Linked DNA regions of Homo sapiens. The protein of the gene in region 1 interacts with the protein of each later gene in a pairwise test. Each region holds a gene or a part of one and is shown on either strand. Other genes may lie near its edges.

Evidence for each region.
Region 2: the proteins of SLC41A1 (region 1) and GPR101 interact in binary tests that used the Homo sapiens proteins (3 or more experiments, as listed by UniProt).
Region 3: the proteins of SLC41A1 (region 1) and SLC10A1 interact in binary tests that used the Homo sapiens proteins (3 or more experiments, as listed by UniProt).

What each region holds. Positions count from the first base shown.
Region 1 is NC_000001.11:205,803,070-205,806,726, reverse strand, and holds part of SLC41A1 (solute carrier family 41 member 1), read left to right. Parts: intron 1-3,657. UniProt on the Homo sapiens protein: Na(+)/Mg(2+) ion exchanger that acts as a predominant Mg(2+) efflux system at the plasma membrane.
Region 2 is NC_000023.11:137,027,389-137,031,045, reverse strand, and holds part of GPR101 (probable G-protein coupled receptor 101), read left to right. Parts: coding exon 1-898; 3' UTR 899-3,657. UniProt on the Homo sapiens protein: Orphan receptor.
Region 3 is NC_000014.9:69,774,909-69,777,728, forward strand, and holds the end of SLC10A1 (hepatic sodium/bile acid cotransporter), read right to left. Parts: intron 1,481-2,820; coding exon 1,374-1,480; 3' UTR 508-1,373; downstream 1-507. UniProt on the Homo sapiens protein: As a major transporter of conjugated bile salts from plasma into the hepatocyte, it plays a key role in the enterohepatic circulation of bile salts necessary for the solubilization and absorption of dietary fat and fat-soluble vitamins.

The DNA.
Region 1 (3,657 bases):
AGGAAAAGGATAAATGGACCTCCATCTGCTCTAACTTCCCAACCATGGCTGAAAGTTCCTGCAGCATCTGGAAGGGAAGCAGGCTGGGGCCTGGTGTTGGCTTCTGAAGGGGGTTGGGATATGGGAGCCTCCTCACTGCAGGAGCCTTGTGCCCATCTGCCCAGTTTGGTCCTAGGCTGCTCCGGATGTCTCACTCCCTTTATCTGTCAGCCTTTGTGAGGGATGGGGTGACAGGAAGTAGTGTGCCCATCTGCACTTTAATTCCCAGCTAGGTTAAGACAGGTCCTTATTTTAACTCACTACTCACCTGCTAAGGATCTTGAACAAAGTAGATCCTGCTGTGTATACAGAAGTCTACAACGATGAAAGTGCATGGCAAGCGTGGCCTTGGGGAAGTAGAGTGGGAAGGAAGTATTCCTCCTGTGCCTGGCCTGCTCCTGTGGCCGCAGCATCCCTGGGCGGGACACTCTTATCTGCTTCACTTGACCACCCCTTCTGCTTTTCCCATCTCTGTCCCCTGCCTGCTGTCAGGGACCCATTTGCTTTGCTCCTGCTTTGTCCTGCACCGTATATCCAGGTGTTGCCCTAAAGCCCTTTCCTGGACACCTAGAGGATGCCTTTTGGAAAAGCCTCAGACAGGTGAAGCCTGGGGTTACTGTAATCTCATCTGACCCAGTCCTTACCCTAAAAGATCAGCTCCAGCCCAGCTTCTCCCACAGGAGCCCAGATTCTCCCCAGCCTGGAGCCTAAAGCTTGTATCTGGGAATTTAAGTCTTCTTAATGTCTTGATTCCTGGCTCTGACTTTCTTCCCTGCTGCTACCCTCCTGAGGTGGCTCAGGCCAGAACCCTTGAAGGCAGGTCAGGGTCAGTGTATGAGCTTGGATTGGAGTAGGTGAAGGATGGAAGAGGCGCATTGGAAGGGCAAGGAAGAGGTACTGGCAGGACCACTGAGGATCGAGACTTAAGGTGATTGCTGTGCCTCAGGATTCATTTTGGCTATGGGGGAGGCAGTCTATTCCCTCACCTGCAGAATACCAGGGATCCATGAGCCCCTCACACCAAGGTTAGAGAAGGAAAGAGATGAGGAGCTGCATTTCTGAGAAGTAGTTAAAATCTAGATGCTCCCCTCACCTCCAAGCAGGGCAGCACTTCCTGGAACATGCCCTTTTTCATCCCCATCAGAGCAGGAAGGCGTGGGTGGCTGCTTGGCAGACGGGTGTGACTTCAGGGGCAGATACTCCTAGCCTGGATGAACAGGATGGGGCTGAATTTGGCCAAAGGAGGAAGAAGAGCTACTCACTGTCTGCCCCTGCCCATCCTGTCTACTCCTAACCTTAAGGCCACCTTGATTCCTGGGCTGGCTCCACATCTCCAGCCTCCAGCATCTCTTTCCAGAGTCCTATGCATGCCCATGTGTCAGAGGCTTTCTGCCTGAGCTGCAGCTTTGAGAGGGTTTGTGGGTGAAGAAAGTATGTGTGTAGGAATTGGCTTCTCTGACCCAAGTGCCAACTCGGGGCTTTGCTGGCCTGGGGTCAGGTCGTTTGAGGTTCCAGGCTATATTCTGTAAGAGTCGGGAAGACTTTTGCATAGGGGCTGTTACTGTGACTGCTCCCTCTCCTTGCCTGTCTGTCTCTTATCCCACTGCTCCTAACACTCCGTACTTTGTAGATCCTCCTGTAGCTATAAGGAGAGGGTGCATTGTGCTGGGAGGTAGAGAGATTTGGGGTGCTTATGGTAGCAACCAGAGGAACTTAGCTGAGCTTTATACATTTTTCTTAAATAATAATAAAAGCAAGCAATATTCATTACAAACAGCTCAGAAAACATTGCTTGCATACATGTGGAGTCTTCTTGTGGGCTTTTTCTTTCTATGAGTACATGTACATTACATACACCTACCTGTAGAAGTCAGATTTTCATGGAGCTGGCAGCTTGGAAGCAGGGTGGAGCTGGTGTTTTGGGGTGAAGATGAGCTCTGAGGCTGTGCTCTGAGAGGAGCTTTGAAAGCCCGCAAGGGAGGGGAGAAGAGGGGGATTTTTCCCCTCTCTGGAGCTGGTTTGGGAGGAAGCAGGAGGCGAAGCAGAGCAAGGCCAGACTGCAGGGAGCTGGAGCCTCAGTGGTATGTACCAGCCGTGTCCAAGAGTAACAGTCCCCAAGTTGCTCCAGGGCAGATGGGGCTCACTGGGGCTGCCTTCTCTCTGGGGGGTCTTAGGGTGGGAAGGGATTCACTTCCCTTCAGTGTTTGGAGAGGGCTGGCTCATCCTTTGGCTGCCTGGAAGCCCAGTAACTGTTGTTGAGATGGGGGGCAGTCTCTTCCCCATTGTTAGTCCCTACGGTGGGGCTTCCCTAAGGAGAGTCCCAGGTCTTGGCCAGACCAGAAGCTCAGGCAAGCGTATGCTCCAGCCCCAGTGAAATGAGTCCTTCCCCAGGATCCTGTGAGGCCTCCCACCCCATTCACACAGGGAGAGCTCCGACAGGAAAAGAGAGGTTCTTGCCTTATAGGGCCACCCAGCGCCCAGCCTCTCCTGGTCTCAAGCCCTAGCCCCACCCCCTCTGATAGCCTTGCTTATCTTTTTGGTTATTGTGGTAAAAAATGTGTAACATAAAATTTACCATCTTAACCCTTTTTTAAGTGTGCTGTTCAATAGTACTACGTATATTCACCTCATTGTACAACAGATCTCCAGAACTCCTCATCTTCCCCAGCTGAAGCTCTGTACCTATTAAACACTCACTCTTTTCCCTGCTCCCCCAGCGCCTTGCTTCCACCATTCTTCTTTCCGCCTCTATGAATTTGACTACTTAGGCTGGGCTCGGTGCCTCATACCTGTAGTCCCCACACTTTGGGAGGTCGAGGCGAGAGGATCCTTTGAGCCCAGGAGTTCGAGACCAGCCTGGGCAATATAGTGAAACCCCTGTCTCTACAAAAAATACAAAAATTAGCCAGGTGTGGTGGTGCATGCCTCTAGTCCCAACTACCCGAGAGACTGAGATGGGAGGATGGCTGGAGCCCGAAGCCATGATTGCACCACTGCACTCCAGCCTGGGCCACAGAGTGAGACCGTGTCTCAAGAAAAAAAAAAAAAAAAAAAAGAATTTGACTACTTTGGATACCTCAGATAAGTGTTTTTTATCTGAGTGTTTTATCATACAGTGTTTTTTATGACTAGAGTAATGTCCTCAAGGTTCATCCATGTTGTGGCATATGACAGGATTTCCTTCCTTTTTAAGGCTGAGAAATATTCCATGGTATATATGTACCACACTTTGCATATTTTGTTTATCCATTCATTCCTTGATGGACATTTGGGTTGCTTCCACCTCTTGGTTATTACATATAGTGCTACTATGAACATGGGCATATTAATATATCTTCAAGACCTTGCTTTCTATTCTTTTGGATAAATATCCAGAAGTGGGATTGCTGGATCATGTGGTAGTTTTATTTTTAATTTTTTGAGGAACCACCGTACTGTTTTTCATAGCAGCTGCACCATTTTATAGTCCCACCAAGAGTGCACAAGGGTTCCAATCTCCACATGCTTTTTTCTTTTCTTGAGACGGAGTCTTGCTCTGTCACCCAGGCTGGAGTGCAGTGGCACTGTCTCGGCTCACTGCAACCTCCAACTCCCAAGTTCAAGCAATTCTTCTGCCTC
Region 2 (3,657 bases), on another chromosome or scaffold:
CTGCTACTCCGTGGTGTTCTGTGCAGCCCGGAGGCAGCATGCTCTGCTGTACAATGTCAAGAGACACAGCTTGGAAGTGCGAGTCAAGGACTGTGTGGAGAATGAGGATGAAGAGGGAGCAGAGAAGAAGGAGGAGTTCCAGGATGAGAGTGAGTTTCGCCGCCAGCATGAAGGTGAGGTCAAGGCCAAGGAGGGCAGAATGGAAGCCAAGGACGGCAGCCTGAAGGCCAAGGAAGGAAGCACGGGGACCAGTGAGAGTAGTGTAGAGGCCAGGGGCAGCGAGGAGGTCAGAGAGAGCAGCACGGTGGCCAGCGACGGCAGCATGGAGGGTAAGGAAGGCAGCACCAAAGTTGAGGAGAACAGCATGAAGGCAGACAAGGGTCGCACAGAGGTCAACCAGTGCAGCATTGACTTGGGTGAAGATGACATGGAGTTTGGTGAAGACGACATCAATTTCAGTGAGGATGACGTCGAGGCAGTGAACATCCCGGAGAGCCTCCCACCCAGTCGTCGTAACAGCAACAGCAACCCTCCTCTGCCCAGGTGCTACCAGTGCAAAGCTGCTAAAGTGATCTTCATCATCATTTTCTCCTATGTGCTATCCCTGGGGCCCTACTGCTTTTTAGCAGTCCTGGCCGTGTGGGTGGATGTCGAAACCCAGGTACCCCAGTGGGTGATCACCATAATCATCTGGCTTTTCTTCCTGCAGTGCTGCATCCACCCCTATGTCTATGGCTACATGCACAAGACCATTAAGAAGGAAATCCAGGACATGCTGAAGAAGTTCTTCTGCAAGGAAAAGCCCCCGAAAGAAGATAGCCACCCAGACCTGCCCGGAACAGAGGGTGGGACTGAAGGCAAGATTGTCCCTTCCTACGATTCTGCTACTTTTCCTTGAAGTTAGTTCTAAGGCAAACCTTGAACTGTCCATAACACGAGAAACAAGAGGAGATTTCTTTTCAATGGACCCACAATTCATTAATGCCAAACCATACCATTTCAGGCAAAGGTGTTGCACACACATGCTCTTCACCACAAGGTAGATAAATATATAGAAGAGGCAGGAACTGGGGTCTTTCCGTAAAAGCATGGACTTGAGGATTCTGACTGAAATTTTCCCCCCAAAGATTATTAGGCTCTACATTTCTTAAAGCAACAAGGGCTATCCATTTTGGACTTGTAGTTGGTATTCTATCTTTTCCAGAGCTACAACATGCCAACTTTAGCTCTGAAGGAAAGGGAAGATGATGCTTGTGAACTTAAGGACTTTTCGGCCCTCGGGTCGGGAGCTCATGGGCCAGAGCTACAGCTTGTGTTCAACTGAAAGAAAGGCAATGGACCAAATCATTCATGGAGCCCAAGAAACAGAACCTAATGGACTGATCAACATATGAGCCAAATTCTGAACTGAACAGCCCCACAGTCGGGTGCAAAGACTGTTACACAAACTAAAACAAAGGGCCTCCTACAGTTAGAATCTCAAGAAGGTTTCTAGATCCCCTAAAGGGATCCAGAAAAGTAGAAGGACATGTATGAAATGGGAAGCTAGTCCAAGGGAAAAGATTGAGAAATAACACACATCTGGAGAGCTAAACAGTTGACTTTTTTTCCTATAAAATCTTGGGTTTATGCATGGGCTGGAACTGAGGTCATTAAGTGTAAATTGTCAATTGACACAAATATTTTCTGTCTCCTGTTTGAATAATAGTGGGGCAGAAATCATGCCACTATTTTACAACTTCCCTTATGTGACTGAATTGAGATGCTGGTGGGAATTCTTCAGATCTCTGCCAACACTTCTGTTTTCTTTTGGTTTGTTTTTGTCAAATAAGCCTTTTTTAGTCAAACAGTATTTACAGAAAAAAAGAAATTCAACTAGAAGTGGCCTAAGTCCTACAAAATTCATGATGTCACTGAGGAATAATTTGTTCATCAGAAATATATTTTGTGTCCATGAGATCATAGACAATAAATGTGATCTCCACATGGGGAGCAAGGAAGGCAGAATGAACATTTTTCTTCCTCCAGGCACACCCATGTGTCTTTTCCACCTGTGGCTCTCTTTAAAGCTTTTAAGCTCTCTGCAGATGTGAAAGAGAAATATCAGAGAGTCAGAAATGACAAAGAGGATGATTTCACAATACCTAGAAAACATGTAACCTATTCCAAACAGTCCTAAAATCAGAGCATTCAGATCAGACATATCCTAATTAATGCTGTTGAAATAAATCACGTTGGGAAAACTTTAACAATATCTAAATTATCCCTAGGGTCAATTCACAGGAACATTCCTCAAATCCCAAACCGCAAAATAACTTTGGGCAGGGATATACATATACATTTCTGAGGGCATGGGCCGTATGTATGTGACCAAGTAACATGGAACCAAAAAAACAGTCAAGCCAGTGTTTTTGATCCTCCTACAGAACAAGTTAAAGCAACTCCAGAGTCAACCAACTGTTCATGCAGAAATCCACTGTCAATATGGGTGGAGGGAGTGTTTGGTTGAAAATGGTTAATCAGGTAGTTGTATGATGTAAGATGACCATCTTCAGAGTTTAGCCTCATTCTTGTGTGATTGTCATGCCTTTATTAGAACTCAAGTTTCATTTAAATAAATGCCCAGCTCATTTATTTTTTTTTATCTCTTCCTCCTCACAGATTTCAACATGAACTTCTCAAGGGGTAAACAGCAATGTATTTGGACTGTGAATAACTCTGCATGGGAATTTGGGATTGCCATGTTCAGAATTTAGGAAAGTAGAGGGAATAGAACCAAATAATATAGAGCTGACCCATCCAATAAAAATACCATGATAACCTTATTAATTCCAACTCCATTAATTTGGAACTTGTAGTTATTCAGACAAGGCATGGGGGCTAAAGTTTACCCTTACACTATCATTTATTTTTCTACCAAAATGCATAAAGTGAATTAACAGTCATAAATTTGTTCTACCAATTTATTGCCAAACTCTTGAACTGACCTTTCCTTAAAGGATATCTGGGTGAAGAAATGGCCTATGTGATCAATCCTCCTACAGGGGAGGGGCAGTGCCTTCAGGTCTGTTCAAATTGTCAAAGGAGTTCAAGGTAGCTATAGCCTATCCTTTGAGTAGAAATGCTTACTTGGGTAGGAAACAGGATTTCAAACATAAATGTCTCCAAACATTGTGTTAAAACTGAACTTCTTGTTTTATTTTTAAAGCTCACCCCCTTCAAAGTGTATCAGAGAAAATTGTTTGCCAAAATCTCAAATCAAAATGGAACCAGAACCTGTACAAGTATGGTAAGTCCATTTAACAGCACACACAACATTCTCAAGGGCACTGAGATTCCCTTTCCTTTTTGAAGTTCCTCTTTTCCCTATTTTAGTCATTGTCCATTATTTTGGTAAATTGGATTCCTCAAAAGTGAAGACCTTTTGAAACTATGAGCCTGGAAAAGAGGACCTTTTAATTAAGAGCATTCTGCTTTGATGACATTTTCTTCTAAATGAACAATAAGGCCTATGGTTAGCTTGGAGATAGCAAGTACTCGAAATTTTTTGCTATTTTGAATAAAGCACTATCAACTTAATGAGGTTTTACTGCACATACTGTTTTGTCATTTGAAAATCTGAAAGCACACAAAAAAAGTCATCATTAGCCTCACAGA
Region 3 (2,820 bases), on another chromosome or scaffold:
ACTTGACCTCATGATCTGCCCGACTCGGCCTCCCAAAGTGCTGGGATTACAGGTGTGAACTACTGCATCCGGCCATCTTTATTCCTTTCTAAGAATGGTTTGAGGCCAACCCTGTCTTCCTCAAAAGCTAAACAAATGTGTTCTTACATAACTTGTATGTAACCAAGTCTCCTAGCAGATGATGTTGGTTAGATAATAGAGAAAACAATTTGAACAGGTAGGTATATATGGATATAATAAGTAAAAATGATAGGTGGTAGCCTTGTCAAAAATCTGCGTTTTTAAGAGGATGTTAGTAACCCAAATCTGTGTTTCTCGTTTTGGTGTTGGGAGTACTTGTTAGTCCTGCACATTTGCCAAACTGATACCCGAAAACTATATTGTCTTGGTTTCATTTGTACCTGACCATACAAAATGATAAAAATCCCAAGTAACTAATAAGCATGATTGACTTTTTGTAATTGTTAATATTAGTTGTTAATCATTTACTTGATCCTTATTTACATATGATATGCAAAATGTTTAAATTTTATTAGAGACAATTTGAAATTTGTGAATTCTAGGTATTTGAACATTTTTCTTTGAATTGGGAAACGACTCATTTTGGCAGTAGTTTGCTGTACCCAGTTTTGGGGGCGCCTTGTGTTAAAACCAAATACCTACTGAACTTAAAAAAGAGATTATTAGTGAGGTAACATTGTGTTAATGTATGTGTTTGTTTCCTGGTTTTTCCTTGTCAAAAGTTTTCCTCCTCTACTAACATGATGCATTCGCCCAGTTTTTTCATTTCATTAGCTATTTTTTGAGTTTGTTTTGCCTGATTGCATCTTACTGTGTTCACTTTTGCATACTTGATGTCAAATTTGACTTTTCGGGAGCATCATCCCAATAATGTCAAAAGGGAAGGAATAGGATCTGAACTTTTTAGGTTAGAACTTCTGAAGTTTAATTCTACAGCACTTGTGAGCATTTATTTCTCTTTTGGGTCACAAAACTTGGAATGGGATTTGGGTATTTGAGTAATGGGTTAAACATATATATTGATTAGTTCAGGAATTGAGTGACTTTAAGATGCTTATCAGACACTTTTAGAGATCCCAGCAAGAGGCAGATTCGGTTTCTGGTTTCATAGAGTTTACAGTCACTGAACAAGTCTTTAAAATAAGTAGCAAATTCTAAGTTGGGGATAGGTGAGGCTTCTTGGGTAGACACCCTGTCTGTGTTCCCGGCCAAGACTTGATGATTCTGATAGATGTACTGGAAATGCTGGAGAAAGACTCAGGCAAGACTGGTGTTTTTGCTGCTCTCTCTAGTTTACCACACTGGCTTTCAGAATTGCTTTGGGACCAGAATCCAGGCCACCAGGGGAAGGGCTAGGCTGTGCAAGGGGAGCAGTCCTCCCCTTTGTAGGTGCCATTTCCCAGAGCTCCTGGAATTGTTTCTTCAGTTGTGGCAGCTGTGTAGATCATTTTTGTTTTATCTGTAAAGTTAAAAAGGGTTACAGGTGTAGAGAGAGAACAAGAGGAGTGAACAATGAAGCTTGTTTAATCTGGAAAGTACAAAAATACCAACTCAGCCCTAGAGTGTGCTAAGTATATATTTTCCATCTCTGTCGTCTCTCCCATGGTTTACTCTTTAAACTCACTTTCCCCTCAGTCTCCCTAATGGTAGTACTAGTAGTAAAAGTCCTAATGAATTAGACTATTGTGTCTTCATCATCACTTCACTTCTAACTTCGTTATACAGTAAAACAACAGGAGATGAGTTTATGTATGCAAGGTCTGTGTTGCATTCAGGGAATGAGGAGGCAGGCAGGAAAGATCTTCGAGAAAGTCTAACCAAGAGAGTTTCCAGTTCTTCCCTCCAACCCCCAATTGATCTACCTCTTCTTGTCCGTGGTGTAGGCGGTGATGCAAATTTGAAGATAGCTTTGATTCCTGCACCTTTCTATACAGATGGGAGAGTTCTCTATACAGAGTTGTTCTCCCATCAGGTGCAGGAATGAAAAGTATAAAAACTTGACAGATTCCTCCCCCCTGAGAATAGCTTCTTGGGGCCATTAGGTCCAAAGAAATACGTTGCTTTGATTTAGTGTTTCCACTGGGGTCTTCTGAGATACACTGTGAGGAAAGTTCTTTTCAAGTCTTGAGAGCTAAAGATCCATAGAGTATTGTCCTTTGAGGTCACTTCAGGTCTTTCTGGTACTAAAACCTCAAATCTGGGAATTTGGTTGGTCTAGAAACTTCTGTGCACTTTTTGTAAGAGGGCAGCAAATCTCTTGCGTTCCTCTCAGATAAGCATCAGAGTAGATTCTTTCTCACAACTCTACTGTAGCTTTGAACCAAAGCTTCTAAAATGGTTCTAGTGTATGGTCAGCCTGTACTTGTTTCGTGTTGGCTGCTTGGCAACCTAATTACATCTTAGCTAATTGCAAAGGGAGAGAGAATCGGCATTTGCTTGCTAGTATAATGTAACAAATTCCAATAGGGAAAGTTGTGTATTTCTCCTAGGGTGTAAATCACAGTCCCTAGGGTCTAGAAAGGTTTTGAAGGGGACTTCAATTCATGGACATGAAGGGACAGTTGAAGGATTTGGGTAGGTACTTAGGAAGAATATACTAATGTTGAGAGTTATAATGAAATGTGTTATAAAGTGGGTTTGAATGTCCTGTTTTTTTTTTTTTTTTTTTTTTTTTTTAAAATTGGTGTTAAAGTGCACTTTGAGGAAGGCACTCTGTTCTCTGGTCTGTCTTGAGGTTCAATTTTATTTTGAAAGGTAATACTCTGAGCATTTTAGAGAAGAGATGCTATGTTAACCCCA